4 separate regions of the Homo sapiens genome follow, and all the other regions are linked to region 2. Evidence: fine-mapped expression QTL. A gene starts in region 2. Each other region holds a variant in brackets. All regions are shown on one strand. Distances are between the middles of the regions.

Region 1 (5,616 bases), 65 kb before region 2:
GGTGGGAGGTGAACGTAGCAGGGCAGGGTGGGCTGTGACTGCCGCTGACTCCACAGTGCAGCCCCTAGCTGGGACCCTCTCCCACTCCCAGACACATGTGCCGGGGGCCTGCCCCCACCTGGGTCTCCCCACGCCCCACAGTGGCCCTGGCTGGGAGTGGCCAGTGCTCCTGAGCCCTGCAGGTGATGGGGGAAGTCACTCCACAAGGCAGGGTCCAAGGCCAGAGTCCGCGGCTGCACAGACCTGGGTTCCATCCTGGCCCTGACATGTCCACCGGGCAGTTCTGGGACAGTCCAATGATGCCCTGAGCCCGTTCCCTCCCTGTCACGGGGAAGGGGTCCCATGCAGACCTCTCGGCCGTGGCTTCTCTGAAACCCCGATGGGACCCTGGCTCCTACGGGATGCGCTGTGCTGATCTGTCCCCCCTCACTCTGGCCTCTCACCCCTCAGGGACACCAGACGCTCAGGGAGCAGGAGGCCAAAAAGGGCAGAGCCGCCTCCAGGAGCTGGCGAGGGAGGCGCCAGCAGCCGTCATGTCCAGGAATGTGAGCCCCCGACCCCTCAACCCTGCACGAGGCCCTCACCCCTGTCGAGGAGCTGGTTGAGAAGCAGTGTCCCGGAGAAGAAGAAGAGGTAGGCGAGCATCTGCGAGGCCACCTCGGGGTGCACCTGCAGCTGCCGCAGGAGGTCCAGGGCTGCCTGGTACACAGACACCACGCGGCGCAGCTCCTCGGGCAGTTCGGGGGCCGAGGACCAGCTCTCACGGCGCTCCGTCTGGAATGGCGGGCACTCCAGGAGTGCCGGGAGGCAGATGTACAGGGACTGGCGGGGGCAAGAGGAGAACAGCAACCAGCATTTCCAGGAGCGCTGGCGGCCGAACGGGGGGCCTGACCCAGCGAGCTCCCCACCCACGCACTGCTTGCAGGGACCCGGCCTCGGTAGCTTCCTGCTGGACAGGCCATGGCTTTGCAAATGTCCAGTGTGGGATGTGGGGACACAGGAGCTGCCTCCTGGGGCTGCTGGGAGCAGAGGTGGGGTGCAGGGGGCTCAGGGGGATCTGCTGTCGGAGGCACAGATGAACTCAGAAGGCGCACAGAGGTGGCGCCTGGGGGGATGGGCTCCAACAAAGGGGCTCCAACAAAATGACGGGAGAGTCACCACTCCCCCAGAAAGTGGCTCACCGCACCCCCGATGCACCCCAAGCTGGCCAGGGCCACAGGGGGACCGGCGGCAGCACCTCTGGCACCCGTGGGTCCAGGGTGACAACAGGGCCATGTCCCTTGCGCCCCATGCTGGGGCCTCCCCCACCTCATCCCTGACCCTCGAAATACTGGCAGGAAGGGGGCGTTTCAAGGCGAGGGAAAGGGAGCTGGGATGGTTCTAGGGCTTCTGTGCGACCTGAGGAGGAGCGGGTGTGGGGGGTGCAGCTGGGCCTGTGCAGAACCTGCAGCCACTGCTCCCTGATGAAGTGGAGCTTGTCACGGTCCCCTCCCTCAGCCCCCCAGAAGGCTCCTTAGGAGAGCCACAGGCACAAGCTTGAGCCCCACTTGATCCCAGGAGCTGCCTGAGTGCAGAAGCAGAGCCCGTCCGTGCACCTTGGAGACATAGTAGACGCACTGCTGGAAGGCGTACAGCACCACCTCCTCCAGCACCGCCATGGCCTCCTCGCTGGCCGTCAGCGTGCAGGAGAACAGCGATTCCTTCGAGCCTGCCGGGAGACAGCCACGCCAATGGTCACAACGGGCACAGCGCTCAGGAACGCAGCAACTCAGCCAGCCGCCAGCTCTTTCCCTGGCGCGGGCACCACCCAACGCGCCCATCTGGGGTCCAGATGCGATAAACTGGCCGAGGGACTCTGGGCCCTGGCTGGGACGAGCGCAGCAAACCTGCCGCCACTCTTACCTGGGGAGGGGAATGCCGGGAGGGGCAGGAGGGGTCCAGACACCCAACATCTCAATGCCCAGCCCAGCCCAGCCCAAGCGCTCATTCACTCCCACGTTCTGGATACGTTTTCTGTTACAACCAACTGCACCCAACATAGCAGGTCCTAACTGCCTCCCCACAGGTCACCTCTCACTCGCGACACGGGTCACAGGACTCTGGCAGCAGCCCCTGAGTGGCCGCCACTCTGTGGAATCATAAGTCTTTTGGGAAGAAAAAGCCCAAATCAGCTATTTCACCCCCACCCCCGGGTGTCAGCCGGGGCGGCTGGAGCTGAGGCTGGGGGGAGCTGCCCACGGAGTGGTTCCTGCCGTCTGGGTGGGGGCTCTTGTGAAGGTGGGAGGCCCCCAACAGGGTGGAGC[C/T]TTCCCCGGGGGCTTCCAGAAAGTGAGGGAGCATGTGGTGGTCTCAGTGACTGAGGGTCCCATCAGCACCTGGGGAAGGGGCCAGGACCCTGGGTGTTCCGCCTTTGGGCGCCTTCATTCTCTCCTGGGACTGTGGGCGGCCAACCACAGTGGTGTTCCCTGTCAGCCGCGTGGGCGGCCACAGCTCCCCTCCTCTCCCTCCTGTGGGGCCTTCTTCCAGGAGGGGCAGAGGGGCCGCATCGTGGGGGCTGCCTGTCCAGGCCGCCTGCCAGGGCTGCATGGGCGGCGCCTGGTGAGCCAGGCCAACACTCACCCCAGCGCGGGCCTCCCAGGAGCACAGGCCCCCAGCTGCCCCTCTGCCGGGCAGACTGCACCGGAGGCCGGCCCACTCATGGCCAGGACAATGGTGCGCCAAGCCCTTGGACAAGCCCCTGTCACTTTCGCTCTGCCGCTCCTGGTGCTCCTCCTTCAGGGGCTTGGGGCTGCCTGGCCCCCACCCACCAAGCCCGCTCCCCAAGAACCTGTGAAGCCCCCCAGTGCCTGCCCCACAGGGTCACATCTGGGAACCAGGCAGGGCAGCTGGAGGGACCCCGGGGTCCGGGGCAGTAAGGGGCTCTCGGGCTCTGCCAACCTCAACACTGTGCCCAGAAGCCTCCAGGCCTGTGGAGACACACAAGGTGGCCCGACGGCGCCCACAGCGAGTGCCGGCAAAGGATATTCACAGCCACGGCAGGCGGGTCAGGAGGCTGAGCTCTGTCCCGTCCACCTGTCCTGGTGCCCTGACCCTGGCTGCCTCAGGCTGCCAGGTCTGAGAACCCAGCCCCACATCACTCCCTGGGCAGGGGCGGGGCACTGGTGGGAAGAGGGAAACGGGGCATGGGAATGACAGGAGAAGGTGGCAGGGACTGTGCTGAATGAAACCACAAAGCAGCCTCCAGCCACCCACCACGGGCCTGAGACTCCATTTCTTCTTTTATTTAATTTTTGGTAGAGATGGGATCTCACTATGTTGCCCAGGCTGGTCTGGAACTCCAATCTACCCGCCTTGGCCCCCCAAAGTGCTGGGATTACAGGCATGCACCCCTGCACCCGGCCCTGAGACTCCATTTCTCTCTCTCTCTCTCTCTTTTTTTTTTTTTTTTAAAGACAGAGTCTCACTCTGTCGCCCAGGCTGGAGTGCAATGACACAATCCCAGCTCACTGCAGCCTCAGCTTTCCAGGTTCAAGCGATTCTCCTGCCTCAGCCTCCCAAGTAGCTAGGACTACAGGCACATGCCACCATGCCTGGCTAATTTTTGTATTTTTAGTAGAGACGGGGTTTCACCATGTTGGCCAGGCTGGTCTCAAACTCCTGACCTCATGTGATCTGCCTGCCTCGGCCTCCCAAAGTGCGGGGAGGACAGGTGTGAGCCCAGCCCTGAGACTCCATTTCTAAACCCCCGGAGACGCCTCTCCCTGTGGTACCAGGGCTGGTGGGCATTTCTGAGGATTTCCGACGCCCACGAGCCATTAAGAGGACACACCAGCCGGCTGCCCCTGCCCTGCCCCGAAACTCCAGGACCCCTGAGGAAGCTGGCCCTATCCCTAAAGAAGAAGGCGCTGAGCTCCAGCCACGAGGAGAATCTGAGGCGCACACGATGGTGTGAGGCGGCGCGGGAGGGGCCTGGGTCAGAGCTTTGTACAAAACAGTGTTTGCGGAATGACAACAGCCACGTGACCCACCCTCGGGACGCGACAGCCCTGCTCTCCGAATTCTTCCCACAGACATTTCCTGCAGAGGGTCGGGAGGCTGACGGGGCTCTGCCCCTCCGGCCCCTTCTAGGGGCTATTTCCCACTCTGTTCCCTGGTGCCTGCCTGGCCCTCGACACCCGGAGCCTGCAGGCATCCCTGGGCCCTGGCTCCCATCGCCGGGCCAAACACTGCTCAGGCCCCTGACCAAAAATAACTTCCTCCCAAGACCAAAGGCAGCAGCTCCAACAGCCCAGAGCAATTTTTCCCATGAAGAGCAGCCAGCACGGGGACCACATGGGACCCAGCTGCCTGCGGCCACCAAACCCAGGCAGCCACGAAGCCACGTGGAAAGTCAGCCGGGGACTCTCCAGGAACACAGAGCCGAAAAATCACAGGTCCCTGAGCTGACTCTTCCTGTGGGGGCCGGAACAAAAGGGGCTCCTAAGCTGGCCCCGTCCCCCTGTCACACGGAAGGACCAAGTGCACTGCAAGGTCAGTGAGGGTCACCCTTGGCCGGCCGCAACTCCGGAGTTGCCTCCATCCCAGGGCCACCTGCCGGCTGCAAATCCAGCCCTGGAGGATGGCAGAGTCAGGTCTGCAGGGAGAGGCGACGGGCGCTGTAGTCCCGGGAGCCCAGGAGCCCCAGGGGAGGCCTGTAGCTGGGCAGCTGGAGGTGGGAACCTTGCGTGGAGACTTAGGGACCCACAGTCGTTTACGTCACTTTCCAGGAAAAAGCCAGAGGAAAGGTCTACCCTAGGCCCAGGCCCCATGGACAGGCAGGGGCTGCCCCATCACGTGGGGGGCAAGGGCACAGGCCAGATGCCCGGATGCCCACCAAGGCCAGGAGGGGTTGACACTACCCCCACATATTGAAGGCAGCCCCGATTCCCAGGACTGGGGAGACCCTGGCAGATCCCCACATCCCCTTCCCTGTGAAGGAGGGGAGAAGGAAACAGTGGGAAGGAACCGTGGCCGGCAGGAAGGAACTCGGACAGATCCTGGCCGGCTCTGCCTCCCCCAGGAGCGGGGGCCCCACCCCACAACCTCATGGCCAGGGCCAGCCCGGCCTGTTCCACGCGCCCTCAGTCCAGCCTGGTCTCTGCAGCCCGGCCCCCGCCCGGAGGCTGAGGACTGGGCCCCGACGCATTGTGGGAGCCTGTCCCACCACAGGGTCACTGTGCAGATGCCCCGCCACCTCCCTCTCACCACGGAGAGCCCCTCCTCTCAGGAAACCTGCCCCTAAGGCATGGGGGGGCACAGCAGGGTCCCAGCGCCCCCAACACAGCCTGGCCAGTACCTCGCCTGGCCTTGTGTCCTCCGGGCTGTCTCAGATGCAGCCACAGCCACAGCCCCCTCCCAGGGATGGGGACACAGCTGAGTACACAGAGACCCCGCAGCGTCTGGTAGACTGAGCCTGTGGGAGCTCCTGTCCCTGCACACCGGGCCTGCGCCTCCCTCGAAGCTCAGAGACGCAGCCTGGAGCAGCTCTGAATGCACCACTCCCTACCCGGATCCTCCAGAAGCCAGACCGCCACGCCACGGCCACTCAGGACCCTCTGGCACTGTGCCCGCCTGACAGCC
Region 2 (5,616 bases):
GTCCCAGCTACTCGGGAGGCTGAGGCAGGAGGATCACCGGAGCCCAGGAGTTCCAGGCTACAGTGAGCTATGATTGCGCCACGTCACTCCAGCCTGGGCAATGGAGTGAGACCCTCTCTGTTAAAAAAAAAAAAAAAAAAAAAAAAAAAAAGATGGCTGGGCACGGTGGCTCACGCTTGTAATCCCAGCACTTTGGGAGGCTGAGGCGGGCAGATCACGAGGTCAGCAGATCGAGACCATCCTGGCTAACACTATGAAACCCTTTTTCTACTAAAAATACAAAAAATTAGCCAGGCGTGGTGGTGGGCACCTGTAGTCCCAGCTACTCGGGAGGCTGAGGCAGGAGAATGGCGTGAACCCGGGAGGCGGAGCTTGCAGTGAGCCAAGATCATGCCACTGCACTCCAGCCTGGGCGACAGAGTGAGACTCCCTCTCAAAAAAAAAAAAAAAAAAAAGACAAAAATTGGCTGGGCATGGTGGTTCATGCCTGTAATCCCAGCTCTTTGGGAGGCCGAGGCGGGCAGATCACTTGAGGTCAGGAGTTCAAGACCAGCCTGGCCAACATGGTGAAACCCTGTCTCCACTAAAAATACAAAAATTAGCTGGGCATGGTGGCGGGTGCCTGTAACCCCAGCTACTTGGCAGGCTGAGGCAGGAGAATCGCTTGAACCCCAGAGGCAGAGGTTGCAGCAAGCCGAGATCACGCCACTGCACTCCAGCCTGGGCAACAGAGTGAGACTCCGTCTCAAAAAAAAAAAAAAAGACAAAAATTATAAAAAGGCCCCCAAATACAATGGAAAAGTGAGTTGATATTTGGGGCCCAGGGGTGGATATATGTTTTGTAAGGTCTGACATTTACATAATTCTTCTTTAATAAAAAACAAATAGAAAATTACAAACACACAACTGCTAGGTCTCCTCCCAGGGTCTTAGAAGCTTGAACTTCAGAAATGTTGTTCCCCCCACTTCCCCCCACCCCTGCTTTTCCCACAGTTTCCGGAGCCGGATTCGAAGGCAGAGGCAGAGTTAGCAGTATCATGAAACAGGAGAAAATGTAAGCAGAGAGAATATGATTGACTCCTTTCCAATAACTCCTTCTTAAGCCCCCAGAAGTCCCTGTTACACAAACCTTATCTGTTTTGGGATTTTCAGAAAGCATTTCTCTCCGTTTGGTCATCCTCCCTTGGCCAGACCAGAGGGTGCCCACTTGTTCACACGCTGCCCGCTTCCGAATCCCAGAAGGCGGAGCCTGGCCTGTTTGTGAGAATGGGATGGACTCGTTTTTTAAAAGGCCAAGGGGAGTGCAGGAAAATCCGACCGGGCGGAGCACGCCCTGGGTAACAAGATCTGTTTTTCTGGAAGTGCGACCGGCCTCTTCTGCCCCATTCGCTCCTCTGTGACACAAATACTTGGGGAAAGCGCAGGGCTCGGACAGCGAGGGTGTGGGGCGCTGGCTGGTGCTGCTCTTAGAGAATGTTTTCTCTTGTTCTCAAGGAAGGGTCCAGTTTCTGATGAAAAACAAGCTCAAGTCCCAGCGGCGAGTACAGGGAGTGAGGTCAGTGCTGCGCTGACGACATGGGTGGAGCGACCTCTCTGCTCCAACAGGACAATGTGGAACCCATTATCATTTCCAGCAGGAGGGAAAACGAAGCGCAGACTTTACACACTCAGCTCTCTCCCCTCCTTCCATGAATCCTATCTTTACAGCCCCAGCCCGAGCCACGCTTTCAAATGCAAACATAATTCAATCAGATTTAATTCTGACCTGCTAGCTGCTGGAGAGGAGACCGACTTGCCCCCCAGCAAAAGGGACTTTCAAGACTGGTTCCTGTCTGGAATGCACAAGAGGTGGCCTATATTAACCGCGGGACACGAGCAATCAGATTCTTCTGTGCAATTCAGATTAGCCAAACACTTGACAGGCGACAGGGCAGGGCAGGATGGTCCGCAGCCCCGCCAGGGCCCTGCCAACCCCACCAACAGGCTCCTCCTGCGAGGCCCCAGGAGCTCGGCTCAGCATCTGTTATCTTGGATGCAGTATTTGTCGAGGGGCTGGAAATGGTACATAAATAGCCGGGAAACAATGCTTTGAGCTGGCGCACGAGTGGGGATCGGGCTGCAACCGGGACGGGGTATGTGCAGGGGACGTCTCGCCGGCCCAGGTGGGAGAGCGCGCGGAACCCTGCGCCCCGCTCCCCCGCTGCGCCCCGCTCCCCCGCTGCGCGCCCCGGACGAAGCTCCCCCTCCAGGGCACAGCCGGGAAAACTGAGGGCCGAGAGTCCCCTGGAGTTGGGGGTCCGGGGCCCACGCGGACAGCCAGGCTCAGGAGCTCTCGGGGGTCGGCAGCGCGGACCCCCGGATCCCCGCAGGCTGGGCCGCCCTTGCCCGCGCTAGCCGGCCTCCGGGTACCGCCCCCCGGTCCAGGCCGGGGCCCGACAGCCAGTCGGTTCCCATGGCAACTGGGCAAACCTGCCCTCCGCGCCCCGACCAGCGGCCGGGAGTGTCCCCGAGCGCGCCCCGCGGCCTCCGCGCCCCAGGTCCCCGGCAGCGGCCGAGCAGCGCCCCTTACGAGCCACCCCCGGTTCCGCAGTCACTCCTCGCGCACCCCACACTCACCTCCGGCACAACCCGCCGCGCCGCCACGTTCCCGCGCTGCTCCCACCCGCCGTTGGCTGGGGCCGGCGCCCAGACCCGCGCGTGCCGCGGCGCCTCCTGCCGGCGGCGCAACGGGCGGGGCGGGGCCTCAAGGGGACGGGGCCACAAAGGGTGGGGCGGGGGAGAACAGGTGGGCTGGAGCTGGGCCTCGGCGCCCAATAGGCAGAAAGAAAGCCTCGAGGAGGCGGGGTCTCCAGGAGAGGGGCGGGGCCAACCTGCTAGAAAAGGCGGGCTGTGCTCTGGCGCCTCCTGCCGGCCGCCCAATGGACGGGGATGCAGCCTCGAGGGGGCGGGGCCTCACCGGAGAGGCGGGGTTTTGAAGAAAGGGGTGGGGCTGGTTGTGGAGAGGCGGGACTTGCAGCCCACCCACAGACTGCAGCTTAAGGAGGGGGGGTCCCCGGAGGAAGGGTGGGACCAGTTCTAAGTCCCTGAGCTGCTTGTGGGCTCTGGGCTCCTGCGGTTGGGTGGGCTATTTCGAGACAGCACCTTCTAGTAGCCCAGTGAGTGGGTGTAGGGGAGGGTAGAGCTGTGCCCCCAATTAATAAACATCTTCTAAGACATCGAAAAGGAACAAGGGAGGAATTTCCTCTCCCCTACCATCTGTCTCCCACCCAGAGTTTTAAAAGACAAATCAGGTCATGGCATTCCTGCTTACAATTATGCAAAAAAATGACCAGGTCAGCTCTGGGGCTCTGGCCCCAACTGCTCTCCCTGGGGACTTGTTTAAAAAGCAGCTCGTGACCTCGGCACTTTGGCTGGGGTTTTCCCTTTGAGGAATGTGGGCTAGACCTGGGAGATTCAGGTGGTTCGGAATATCAATATGCAGAATGTGGGCCTCGGGAGTGAACCTTTTTGTGGACAGCTATCGTGGTATGATTTCCGTAGTCATGACCCCATATTCGCGATGGAGGTCGGAGCAGACATTGATGAGTGTGGGAACAGACATTTATTGACCACCTGTGTGCCAGGCCCTAGGCAACTTTACCTAGGTCACCTCACTTAATGCTCACATCAATTCTTGTGAGACAGAGATGTCTGAGACATTCCAGGCCTCCCCTTTCCTCCACCTATCACCTGCTAATCCTAAAGTCCACCTCCTAAACCTTTTCTAATAAAAAATAGTGCCTCAAAGTCAACACAGAGAGACAGATTTGAGCCAGGCTCCTGTCTCCTTATTGATCAACTCACAATACGGACAAAAAAAGCTTTTGTCTCAAAAACTTAATGCAGTAAGATTGGCTTTTTTTTTTTTTTTTTTTTTTTTTTTTTTTGGAGACAGAGTCTTATTCTATTGCCCTAGCTGGAGTGCAGTGGTGTGATCTCAGCTCACTGCAACCACCACCTCCCAGGTTCAAGCGATTCTCCTGCCTCAGCCTCCCGAGTAGCTAAGGTTAACAGGCACCTACCACCACGCCCACCTAATTTTTGTATTTTTAGTAGAGACGGGGTTTTGCCATGTTGACCAGGCTGGTTTTGAAATCCTAACATCAGGTGATCCACCCACCTCAGTCTCCCAAAGTGCTGGAATTACAGGCATGAACCTCTGCACCTGATCAAGATTGGCTTCTAGCAGAGCAAGCGCAGAACCCTTTTGTTCAGTAATACTCCCATTTTTCAGATGAGAAAATAGAGACGCAGAGAGGTCAGGCTGCTGGAGGTAGAGACAAGAACTGAGCCAGGAATACAGGACCCTCTGTATACACACCAACCTCCTCGCCTACCCCAGGAAGGGATGCTTGAAAGGAATGACGTGCTTGAATATTTCATTCAGGTGCGCATGAAGAGACAATGGTCAGAGCTGAAGGAGAGCCTGGGTTCAGGCCTGGGTTTTCCTCCTGAGATATTCCTCACCCTGCTCCTGGCCCATCTCCCACAGTCCCCACATCCTTCTTCCACAGGGGTCGGATAACTACAACCCATGGGCCAGATCTGGGCTGCCTTCTGTTTTTGTAAATAAAGTTTTATTCAAACACAGCTACCCTCATTTGTTTAGATATTATCTACGACTGCTTTCCTGCAACCAGGATTTTACAGCCCCAAATATCTAAAATATGACCTGGCCCTTTATAGAGAAACTTTTCAGATTGCTTCTTGATCTAGAAATGCTGACTTTTTGGTATGAATATGCTGTTTCATGCCTCGAGATCTTCCCTCAGGCCGGTCCCTTGACCTTCAAACACCTTTTCCAACTGTATTAGATTAGCTGAGCTGCTATTAAAAAATGCCAGATCAGGTGGCTCGAAAAACGGAAATGTTTTATCTGGCAGCTCTGGAGGCTGGAAGTCCAAGGTGAAGTTGTCAGCAGGTTTGGCTTCTTTGAGGGCCTCTATCCTTGGTTTGCAGACGGCCACCTTCTGGCTGTGCCCCCACATGGCCTTTCTTCTGGGTGTGCACCTCTCACCTGTCTCTTTGTGTGTTCAATCTCCTCTTTTTATAAGGACACTAGTCAGATTAGACTAGGGCCCATCCTAACAGCCTCATTTTATCTTAATCACCTCTTTAAAGGCCCTGTCTCCAAATATAGTCACATTCTGAGGTGTGAGGGGTCGGGGCTTCAACAAACACGTGAATTTTAGGGGGACAAAATTCAGACCATAACAGCAAACTTCATTACCTGGCTAACTTCTTTTTTTTCAAATGTGTGTGTGTATATATATATATATATATTTTTTTTTTAGATGGAACCTTGCTCTGTCGCCCAGGCTGGAGTGCGGTGAGGCAATCTTGGCTCACTGCAATCTCTGCCTCCCAGGTTCAAGCGATTCTCCTGCTTCAGCCTCCTGAGTAGCTGGGATTATAGGCACCTGCCACCACGCCTGACTAATTTTTGTAATTTTAGTAGAGATGGGGCTTCACCATGTTGACCAGGCTGGTCTCGAACTCCTGACCTTGCAATCTGCCTGCCTCAGCCTCCCAAAGTGCTAGGATTATAGGCATGAGCCACCACACCCGGCCGCTAAT
Region 3 (5,000 bases), 95 kb before region 2:
GCCGCTTCCCCAGCGTCCCAGCGTAGGACGCCTCGGAGCCCTTGGTGTCCTGGAGAGCAGGCCTGAGACTCAGGGCCCCTAACCAGTCACAGAAGCACGGCCAGGGCGAGGTCAAGACGTGTGCCCTGGCGGGCCCTGGTCTTGCAGGGGAAGCGGCTGCAGTGGACTCGGAAGCCGTCTACCAGCACCTGTTCACCAGGATCCCGGTGGAGCAGTTCCACAGCCCCATGCTGGCCTTTGAATTCATCCAGTTCTGCAGGGACAACCTCCACCTGTTCAGCGGGCACCTCAGCACCCTCAGATTGAGCTTCCCCAACCTCTTTAAGGTATATTTGGGCATCCCTGGGTGCCAGGGCAGGGGCATGGTAAGTCCCTGGGGCTCCTCCCCTCTTTCCAGCGGGGTTCAGGGCGAGTCCTGGCTGAGCATAGAGCCCTGTGAGTCCCGGGCCTGGAATGCGGTGTGCAGGGTGAGGTGGGGATCTGGGGTGTCCCTGCAGCGTCACGTGATTGACGGTGCTGTCCAAGAACTCCCTTGTGGGTGTTTTGGAGAGGGGGCTGTGACACAAGACGGTGAGTTTGTTCTCACAGCACTGGGGCAGGGCTGCTGCCTGGTAGGATCCCTCCCCCGGGAGCCCTGCCTGGTGCCTTGGGCACTTGGGTGCCATTTGCCTTTTTTTTTTCTTTTGAGATGGAGTCTCATTCCTGTCACCTAGGCTGGAGTGCAGTGGCGCAATCTCAGCTCACTGCAACCCCCGCCTCCTGGGTTCAAGCGATTCTCCTGCGTCAGCCACCTGAGTAGTTGAGATTACAGGCACCCACCACCATGTCCAGCTAATTTTTGGTATTTTTAGTAGAGATGGGGTTTCGACATGTTGGCCAGGCTGGTCTCGAACTCCTGACCTCAGATGATCCTCCTGCCTTGACCTCCCAAAGTGCTGGGATTACAGGCATGAGCCACCGCACCCGGCCTGGTGCCATTTGCTTTTGAAGTGTCTTTTGCAGCCTCGCCTCGCTGTAAGGTCTTTTCAACTGAGGTGGGGAATCCTCTTTCTGGAGAAAAACCAGGACAGTGGAAAATTATTGACCTGTTGGTACGAAAGTAGATACAGGCTGGGGGCAGTGGCTCACACCTGTAATCCCAGCACCTCGGGAGGCCAAGGCAGGAGGATCTTGAGGCCAGGAGTTCAAGACCAGCCTGGGCAACACAGGGAGACCTCTTGTCTACAAAAAGTAAACAGCCTCACATGGTGGTGTGTGCCTGTAGTCTCAGCTGCTCAGGAGGCTGAGGTGGGAGGATCACTTGAGCCTGGGAGGTTGAGGTTGCAGTGAGCTATGATTGCACCACTGCACTCCAGCCTGGGCGACAGAGCAAGACCCTGTCTCAAAAAAATAAAAAGCGGGAGGAGGCAAAGGTAGAAGCCCTCCTGGGGACTGCAGGTCTGGGACAGCTGTGGGGCCCTAGCTGGCTCCTCCCTCTGCCGCCTGCTCCACAGCTCCGAGCCGTGTCCGAACCGCTGTGCTGTGCCCACAGTTCCTGGCCTGGAACAGCCCACCCCTCACCTCCGAGTTTGTGGCGCTCCTCCCGGCCCTGGTGGACGCTGGCACAGCCCTGGAGATGCTGCACGCGCTGCTGGACCTGCCCTGCTTGACGGCGGTGCTGGACCTGCAGCTCAGGTGGGCCCCTCACCCTCTGCCAGCGCTGCGTCTCCCAGCCAGCTGGTTCCACACACTGGGCCCCCTCCTCGCTGCTCCTGACCCCTACACCGGGGACCCTCCTTCTTCCCCCCCCAACACCTGACCAGTCCTCCCCTGCAAAGCCACCTCTAGGACAGGGTGTGTCTGTCACCCTTGGCCACTTGCCAAGGGCAGCCCCTGCACCCTGGAGTGCCTCACCCGTCTTCACGCCCAGGCCTGGAGCCTCCCATGCCAAGCCCTTCCTGGCACCCGAGGTGCTGTGATATTAGGGACACCTGCCGTGTGTCTCCCTGACGGGGGTGCCCTTGAGTGCAGGGGCCGCATCCCAGCCTGGCCTTGGGCGTCTGTCCACGCAGGTCAGCACCGGCTGCATCCGAGAGGCCACTCTGGGACACCTCTCTCAGGGCCCCCAGCTGCCTGGAGGCCTTCCGGGACCCGCAGTTCCAGGGTCTTTTCCAATACCTGCTGCGCCCCAAGGCCAGTGGCGCCACTGAGAGGTACGGGGCCCTAGGGCCAGGGGGCCACCAGTGGCTCAGAGAGCCCGGCCACAGCCACTGGGGTGGGGCTCACTGCTCAGCCCTAGGCTGAGGCCAGGGTGCTTTGTGTCCCACACAAGGCTGCGTCCCCGTCATCACCATTATAGAGGCC[C/T]TGCTTCTGCACCACGGGTCTGCCGGGGGCGGGGCCTGGTCTCAGCTCTCTCTGCTGCCCACATCAACCCTCATAAGCTTGGAGGTTGGCCCTGTGGGTGCTCCATTTTGCAGATGGACAAACCGAGCCTGAGCCCAGGAAGCAGGAGGCCTGGGACCGGCCACAGGCCTCCTGCCCTCAGCCCACGCCAGCCTTTGTCCCGATGGCTTTACTGTCCCGGGTGTGCTGACGCCAGGGGTCTCCCCAAACCCAGGGGAGCAGGAGGTCCCGAGAGGCGATGAGTGAGGATGGGAGCGGGCTCAGCTGTGCGAGAGGGAGCAGTGGCGACGTGGCCCCGGCCTGCAGTCACCAGGTCGGGGAGCGGGCAGCACTCACGGCCACACTGTGTCCTCAGGTTGGCGCCACTCCACCAGCTGCTGCAGCCCATGGCCGGCTGTGCCCGCGTGGCCCAGTGTGCCCAGGCCGTGCCCACGCTGCTGCAGGCATTCTTCTCAGCAGTGACCCAGGTGAGCTCGCTGCCTGGGGCCCCCCATTCCCACAGGCCTCACAACTGAGGGGCAGGCCAGAGCCAGCACTGGGGGGCCCTCTTGAGCTCTGCAGAAGGCTGCTCCCGCCACACCCACCATCCACGGTCCCTGTGAGGGTCAGGGAGGCACATGCCACAGCCCCGGCAGGCCCCGTCCCTTGTCCCATCCCCTTTATTCCAGCAGGCCCCGTTCCCCAGTCCCCGTCCCATCCCCTTCATCCCGGCAGGCCACGTCCCCCAATCCCCGTCCCATCCCCTTCATCCCGGCAGGTCCTGTCTCCCATCCCAGCAGGCTCCATCCAACTGCCCCAGCAGGCCCTGTCTTCCGTCCCCAGGACAGGGCAAGTGAGTGGCCTGGGCTCTGGCCACACAGCTGGGGCCGGAGCAGTTTGTCCCCCTGCTGCCCCTGATAATTCAGCATCCCCATCTGAGGCCAAAATAAAGGCTCCCACAGGCTGGTGCCCCCCATCTCCCCCATTGCTGCTTCCCACCTCGGGGAGCTCTACAAGCCAGTGCAGGAGAGCCTGGGAGGTGGGGAGGCCGGCAGGGGGCTGGGCGTTGCTTGGGCGCACCCTTGGCCAAACAAGACGTGTGCCTGGCCTTGCAGAGCGGGAGTTGGCAGAGGAGCCGTGGAACAGAAGCGACACCTCTGCCGGGGGCACTTGGGCCAGCCCAGGGCTTCCCTCCCTGTGCCCGGATGCTGCCAGCTGAGTCTCTGTGTCCCTGGGTGTTGGGGAAGGCAGTGGACGAGGAGTCTCCAGCCCCTCACCTGCCCCCCAGCCCTCACCATGGCTTCACCCCCAACCTTAGGGCCTGCAGTGGGGGTGGGGCTGAGCCTGTTTCCCACTCCTGACCCCCAGGTGGCTGACGGGTCCCTGATCAACCAGCTGGCGCTGCTGCTCCTGGGCAGGAGCGACTCGCTCTACCCGGCCCCAGGGTACGCTGCCGGTGTGCACAGGTAGGTCCCTCCTGCGCTCCTGCCACAGCCCTGGGCGGGTGCCTCCTGGACTCCTCCCCCTCTCCCCTCCCCCCTCCCCTTCAGTGGCTTCGGCACCACCCCTAGCTGGGCCCTCAGCAGCCTCAGACCCTGCCACCCCCACCCACAGCCCCACACCCAGCCCCAGGCACTTCTCTCTGCTTCTCAAGAACATTCCCGTCCTTCTTTCTGCCGAGCCTGTCCTCTTCAGGGTTAGCTCAGGTCCCTCTTCCCCGTCTTGTCCCCTGGGGTCCTTCTCTCCAAAGGCCTGATGCATGCAGGCCCATCCTGGTTCCACTCTGAGCCTGGGCCTGAGGCCAGCGCTGGTGCCAGCCTTCTCCCCAGTGAGAACAGTTTCTCTGAGGCTGGCAGTCTTCTGTGTTCCTCTATCGGAGGGTGCAGCATACACCTACCACTCAGACGCTTCCCGGGTTTCTCCAGGCCCTTGGCCTGGATGGGGATGGGGTCATAGGTCTGCACAGAGCAGGCGTAGACCCGGCTTTCTGGGCAGTGTGCTGAGTTCTCAGTTCCTGGCCCTGTGTACGCTGAAACCCTCCCTGGTGGTGGAGCTGGCAAGAGACCTGCTGGAGTTCCTGGGCAGCGTGAATGGTCTCTGCAGCAGGGCGAGCCTCGTCACCAGCGTGGTAAGGCGGGCGCTGGCCTCCCACAGCCGCTCCTGACCCAGGAGGCCTGGGTGGGGGCTGAATCTCTGTCCCCGGGCCTAGGTGTGGGCCATCGGCGAGTACCTGTCGGTGACCTACGATCGGAGGTGCACCGTGGAGCAGATCAACAAGTTCTTCGAAGCCCTGGAGGCTCTGCTATTCGAGGTCACCCAGTGCCGCCCCTCTGCTGCCCTGCCCAGGTGTCCCCCCCAGGTGGTCACCGTGCTGATGACCACGCTGACGAAGCTGGCCTCCCGGAGCCAAGATCTGATCCCCAGGTGCCTGGTCAGGGAGGGAGCGAAGCCTTCTGGCTCCTGGGGAAGAGAGGTGGCTTCTGAGGTCTTCCCATCCAGGTGTTGTGAAATGGTCGCAGCAGCGCAGGTCCTGGGTGGGCCCTGCTGAGCTAAAGCCACTCTGCTGGGCGCTTCAGGCCTGGCCCCTCCACACAGACCCCTGTCCTGGGAGGGGAGCATCTGCAGCTGACGGAGGGACC
Region 4 (5,616 bases), 79 kb before region 2:
TCTGCCTCTCTGGGAGCGCTTTTCCACAGGGGCCGCCGGACTCTGGCCAGTCGGGGTCCCCAGGCTCAGGGCCAAGTGGAGTGCTGGGAGGCGTGAGCAAGCAGGACGAGTCCGTGTGCGGGGGGCCAGCCTGGGAGCCCCCACGGCTGGGTTGCCTTCCAGGGGGGGCCTGTGCCCAGGGAGCCCCCCTCAAGGGAAGAGTACGCTCCGGGGCCACTTCCCGGGCTGCTGGGCCAGGGTCCCTGGGAGCCAGGGGGCAGCTCGGGGCCTCCAGGTGCCCGTCAAGGACCACGTGGTGCATACCCTAGGGAGAGGAAGGGTGACAGCTCAGGTAGAGGAGTGGCCAGGTGGACACAGCACTCGGGCAACTGGGCAGCCTGCAGCAGAAGGGCCGCCAGGCCGCGGGGCAGAGGTCAGCAAAGGACTCCCGCAGCCTGTGCAGCTTGAGACGCGCAAGAGGCAAAGGGGCTTCCCCGCCATCCGGAGCACAGCCTGCGCTGGGCCAGGACTCCCGGGGTTCCCAGAGCTCCCGCCTGCTGCCCCCAGCCCAGCTTCCAACCCTTCTCCTGTCCTCCCGGGCACCTCGGGGCACGCTGGCTGGGGGGCCCCCTCCCCAGGTACCTCGGGGCATGCTGGCTGGGCCCCCTCCCCGGGTACCTCGGGGCACGCTGGCTGGGGGGCCCCCTCCCCGGGTACCTCGGGGCACGCTGGCTGGGCCCCCTCCCCGGGCACCTCGGGGCACGCTGGCTGGGCCCCCTCCCCGGGCACCTCGGGGCACGCTGGCTGGGGGGCCCCCTCCCCAGGTACCTCGGGGCATGCTGGATGGACCCCCTCTCTGGGCACCTCAGGGAATGCTGGCTGGACCCCCTCCCCGGGCACCTCGGGGCACTCTAGCTGGGGGGCCCCCTCCCCGGGTACCTCGGGGCATGCTGGCTGGACCCCCTCCCCGGGCACCTCGGGGCACTCTGGCTGGGGGGCCCCCTCCCCGGGTACCTCGGGGCACGCTGGCTGGGTCCCCTCCCCAGGCACCTCGGGGCACGCTGGCTGGGCCCCCTCCCCGGGCACCTCGGGGCACGCTGGCTGGGGGGCCCCCTCCCCAGACACCTCGGGTCATGCTGGCTGGACCCCCTCCCCGGGCACCTCGGGGAATGCTGGCTGGACCCCCTCCCCGGGCACCTCGGGGCACTCTGGCTGGGGGGCCCCCTCCCCGGGCACCTCGGGGAATGCTGGCTGGGTCCCCTCCCCGGGCACCTCGGGGCACGCTGGCTGGGGGGCCCCCTCCCCGGGTACCTCGGGGCACTCTGGCTGGGCCCCCTCCCCGGGCACCTCAGGGCACGCTGGCTGGGGGGCCCCCTCCCCGGGTACCTCGGGGCACGCTGGCTGGGTCCCCTCCCCGGGCACCTCGGGGCACGCTGGCTGGGGGGCCCCCTCCCCGGGTACCTCGGGGCACTCTGGCTGGGTCCCCTCCCCGGGCACCTCGGGGCACGCTGGCTGGGGGGCCCCCTCCCCGGGTACCTCGGGGCACACTGGCTGGGCCCCCTCCCCGGGCACCTCAGGGCACGCTGGCTGGGGGGCCCCCTCCCCGGGCACCTCGGGGCACGCTGGCTGGGTGGCCCCCTCCCCGGGCACCTCAGGGCACGCTGGCTGGGTCCCCTCCCCGGGCACCTCGGGGCACGCTGGCTGGGTGGCCCCCTCCCCGGGCACCTCGGGGCACACTGGCTGGGCCCCCTCCCCGGGCACCTCGGGGCACGCTGGCTGGGTGGCCCCCTCCCCGGGCACCTCGGGGCACGCTGGCTGGGTCCCCTCCCCGGGCACCTCGGGGCACGCTGGCTGGGGGGCCCCCTCCCCGGGTACCTCGGGGCACACTGGCTGGGAGGCCCCACTGCCAGGCCTGCCAGGGCTGCCGGGGCTGGCTCTGCTCCGCAGACCCCACAGAAAGTGGCGGACGTAGAGCAGGTGCTGGTAGATGCTGTCGTCCAGGCAGTTGGCTTCCAAGTCCACCTGGAAGCCGTCGCTGGGCAGGACGATGGGTGGGGGGTTTTCGTAGGACTCCAGAACATCCTCTGCAGGGGAGAGAGGATGCCCGTAATGGCCACAGGAGAAGCTGCCTCCCTCGCCAGGCCGCCCCGCCCAACGGTGTGGGAACCCAGGGGCCAGCAGATTGAGCCCTGAGTCCCCTGCCCTGTGGACACAGGAGGCTGGGATCCTGGCCACAGTGACTGGCCCCACCCTAGGACTCATCCCTTCTGAATTCCCGCCGACCACCCGGTGTGACATCCGAGCAGTTCAGGACTGAGAACAAGGCCTTGTAGCCAGGAACCCTCCAGCCCCACTGAGCCGCTCTGCACTGGGCCTGTCTCTGCCCCACTGGTCTCTGATGGTGTCTCCGGGTAACTGGAGCTCCCCCAGCCCGGCAGAGCTGGACGCAAGCTCCTCCCAGGGCTGGAGCCGACTGCCTCCCTGCAGGAATCACGGGACCCAAACGGCCTGTGTGCGGGCTGCTCTCTGCCCCCAGGAACAGGAGC[A/G]CCTTTCAGGCGGCGGAAGAGTGCGTGCATACTGAGCTCCTAGCTCCCAGCACAGAATTCAGGCCACAGAAATGAATCAATGCGGAGGAAGGACTTAGAAGGTGTCAGGTGGAGCCAGGGTTCCTGTTCAGAGATGTTCTCCACGGTGACCCGGGGCTGCGGGGGGGCATCCAAGGCCCCATCGCCTCTGCGCCTCCCGCCATCCCGTACTCTGTTTTGTTGAGGTGTTAACACATAATGCAGATGAAGGGAGATGTGTGTATAATCTACACATTATAATGCACCCCTGGCCGGGGGTGGCGGCTCACGCCTGTAATCCCAGCACTTTGGGAGGCAGGAGCAGGCAGATCGCCTGAGGTCAGGAATTCGAGAGCAGCCTGGCCAACATGGTGAAACCCCGTCTCTACCAAAAATACAAAAATTAGCCAGGCATGGTGGCACACACCTGTAATCCCAGCTACTTGGGAGACTGAGGCAGGAGAATCGCTTGAACCCAGGAGGTGGAGGTTCCAGTGAGCCAAGATCGAGCCACTGCACTCCAGCCTGGTGACAGAGTGAGACTCTGTCTCAGTCAATCAATCAATAAAAGGCACCCTCGGCCAGGCACGGTGGCTCATGTCTGTAATCCCAGCACTTTGGGAGGCTGAGGTGGGCGAATCACCTAGGTCAGGAGTTCGAGACCAGCCTGGCTAAGATGGTGAAACCCGTCTCTACTAAAGATTCAAAAATTAGTTGGGCGTGGTGGCGGACACCTGTAATCCCAGCTACTAGGGAGGCTGAGGTAGGAGAATCGCTTGAACCTGGGAGGTGGAGGTTGCAGTGAGCTGAGATTGCACCACTGCACTCCAGCCTGGATGACAGAGCAAGACTCTTGTCTCAAAAATAAAAATAAAATAAAACGCACCCCTATGTATGCACGTACACATGTATGCGCACACAGACCCCTCCGTATGGACATGTGTGTGTGCGTGTGCACATACATGGCTCAGGGATGCGTCCCCACGGCTGTGTACCACCATTGCTCCCTTCCTGGGTAGCCATACAACAGGGGAGGCCCCATCCTCCGGCTCCGTGAGGGAACGAGGGGGCCTTGGACCTGAGCCTGGAGTTTGGAACTTGGGCATGGACTCTCGGCTCCTTGACTCCCCCGCCGAGGAGGTCCCCGGATCCCCAGGTTGGGGATGGGGCGGGGCGGGGGGGTCCTCTGGGTGGAGGCTCCTCCAGGGAGGTCCCCAGGAGAGAGGTCCCCCACACCCCACTTCAGTTGGGATGAGAGCATGCTGCCTCCAGCCTCGGGGCGAGTCTCCCACTGAGTCCCCAGCCCTCTCCTGCCCTGGGGCAGGGCTTACCTGACCTGAAGGCCTCGGGGCTGTCCTGGGCCCCTGGCTCCCAGGTGCTCATGGGGCCCATGGCCGAGGCCAGCTGGTAGTGAGTCAGCAGCCGGTGCAGCTGTGCTGGGCTCAGTGCGGGGAACGCAGCCCGCAGGGCTGTCCAGCTCATCTGGGTGACAAGAAGGAGCTCATGGTCACAGGTCTCTGGGTGCAGACCCCAGCCCAAAGAGGGATGGCCTCCACAGGTGGCCTGGGGGTAGCCAGCTGAGGGGCCCTGTGGTCCTCACTCCCACCAGGGGCCATCTGTGAGGGGGACGGTGTCACAGCAGCAGTTCACCCCTGGCACTTCCAAGGGCAGCTGCTCCAGGGAGAGGCCGGCCAGTGCCATCGGGAACCCCCTGCCCAGGGAACCCACCCCCGTCTCAAGCAAGGGCCGGCCTCACAGGCGGCCGCCAACCAGAGAAACCACTACTGGGAAATGAACAGTGAAATCAGATTCCTGCCTCCAACGGTGTGAAAGAAATCAATCAAGTCGGCTAAAAACCTGCCTGGAAGGCAGGGACATTCATCATTTAGGTGACAGGAGGCAGGGAAAACATTTGTTTGTTTGCTTGTTTTTTGAGACAGAGTCTCATGCTGTCACGCAGGTTGGGGTGCAGTGGCTCAATCACAGCTCACCGCAGCCTCGACCTCCCAGGATCAAGCGATCCTCCCACCTCAGCCTCCTGAGTAGCTGGGACCACAGGCTTGCACCATTATGTCCAGCTCATTAGTTTTTTGTTTTTGTTTTTTTTTGTAGAGATGGAGTTCTCACTATGTTGGTCTCAAACTCCTGGTCTCAAACTCCACGGCTGGTCTCAAATTCCTGGCCTCAAGCAATCCTCCCGCCTCAGCCTCCCAAAGTGTTGGGATTGCAGGTATGAGCCACTGGCTCCGGCCCAGGAAAACGTTTTAGGCAAGACAAAAAGCCTACACCGTAAGGAAGGGTGGATCCCTCCAATAAAATTAAACAGCCTCTGCGGCCCGCCAGGACCTCCATCATCATCCTTCTGGGGTTCCTTTCCCCGGCTCCCAGCCGGTTCTTATTTTCTGCAATTCATTTCTTCAGCTCTCTGGTTTGTCCTGTTTCTATGGAATAGATCTTCTAGTAGCTTCCCAAAAGGGGCGCATTGCAGGAAACCCACTGCCCTGCGTGCTGGAACTGTCTTCACCTCCACCCTGGACTGGTCATCTGGCTGGCACAGAACTCCAGGCGGGAGGGCGTCACCCTTCGGATTCTGCAGGTGCTGTTTTGTCCTGTGACTCCCGTGCTGCTCGTCCAAAGCAACCTGAGTGCAAATCTTCAGGGTCTGCCTTGTACTGATTCTTGTCTGGAAGCCTGTGGGTTCTCTGCACCCATCGTCCTGCAGCCCTGGGATGCTGAGTTTTGCTGTAAGCCCACTCTTGGCAGCAGCTCCTCCACCTCAATGCGTGGCTCTGGAGACTGCCTGCACCTGCCTTCCCCGCGCCCTCCACCCCTCTGCTGGCTCTTTCTGGACTCCCACTGTTTGGATGTGGCCTCGCTGCTGGGTCCCCTCTGTTCTCACCTTTGCCTCCTCGCTCTGTTTCTCTCCCATGTGTTTTTCTGCCCATATCCAGGGGCCTGGGCTGTGGCTACCAGATGTCCACGCTGAAGGATAATCGGTGTCTCGGGCGTCGTGCAGGAGGGGTGAGGGCACAGAACGACGTCCTCCAACACCACCGGCCCCCACCACCCTCAC

Direction of the effects. Positions count from the first base shown, and alleles are read on the strand shown. Sizes are in standard deviations (SD) of each study's normalised expression. Not every link is listed here.
For the expression in prefrontal cortex of the gene that starts at base 2,737 in region 2, allele T in region 3 goes with a higher level than allele C (large effect, 0.84 SD a copy in GTEx).

The links. PIP is the estimated chance that this variant, and not a neighbour inherited with it, causes the effect.
Region 1: its variant is the best candidate, but not a certain one, in a credible set for the expression of RADIL in left ventricle (GTEx, PIP 0.55).
Region 3: its variant is the best candidate, but not a certain one, in a credible set for the expression of RADIL in prefrontal cortex (GTEx, PIP 0.69).
Region 4: its variant is the best candidate, but not a certain one, in a credible set for the expression of RADIL in sun-exposed skin (GTEx, PIP 0.75).

What each region holds. Positions count from the first base shown.
Region 1 is chr7:4,815,644-4,821,259 of GRCh38, forward strand. It overlaps RADIL (Rap associating with DIL domain), which reads right to left. Exons shown (of 15, transcript NM_018059.5): 7 at 1,596-1,708; 8 at 585-822. Among named protein-coding and RNA genes, the nearest start is that of SNORD165, 19 kb to the right of the region's middle. The variant C/T (reference allele first, on the strand shown) is at 2,304.
Region 2 is chr7:4,880,980-4,886,595 of GRCh38, forward strand. RADIL (Rap associating with DIL domain) reads right to left here and starts at 2,737. Exons shown (of 15, transcript NM_018059.5): 1 at 2,617-2,737. RefSeq lists enhancers at 1,439-1,733, 1,463-2,151, 2,152-2,839 and a silencer at 2,549-2,768.
Region 3 is chr7:4,786,103-4,791,102 of GRCh38, forward strand. AP5Z1 (adaptor related protein complex 5 subunit zeta 1) reads left to right here. Exons shown (of 17, transcript NM_014855.3): 10 at 148-326; 11 at 1,532-1,674; 12 at 2,052-2,192; 13 at 2,738-2,849; 14 at 3,730-3,827; 15 at 4,357-4,489; 16 at 4,571-4,785. It overlaps MIR4656 (microRNA 4656), which reads right to left and starts at 2,537; the gene lies at 2,463-2,537. The variant C/T (reference allele first, on the strand shown) is at 2,344.
Region 4 is chr7:4,801,692-4,807,307 of GRCh38, forward strand. RADIL (Rap associating with DIL domain) reads right to left here. Exons shown (of 15, transcript NM_018059.5): 10 at 3,875-4,025; 11 at 1,855-2,063; 12 at 1-304. Among named protein-coding and RNA genes, the nearest start is that of MIR4656, 16 kb to the left of the region's middle. The variant A/G (reference allele first, on the strand shown) is at 2,526.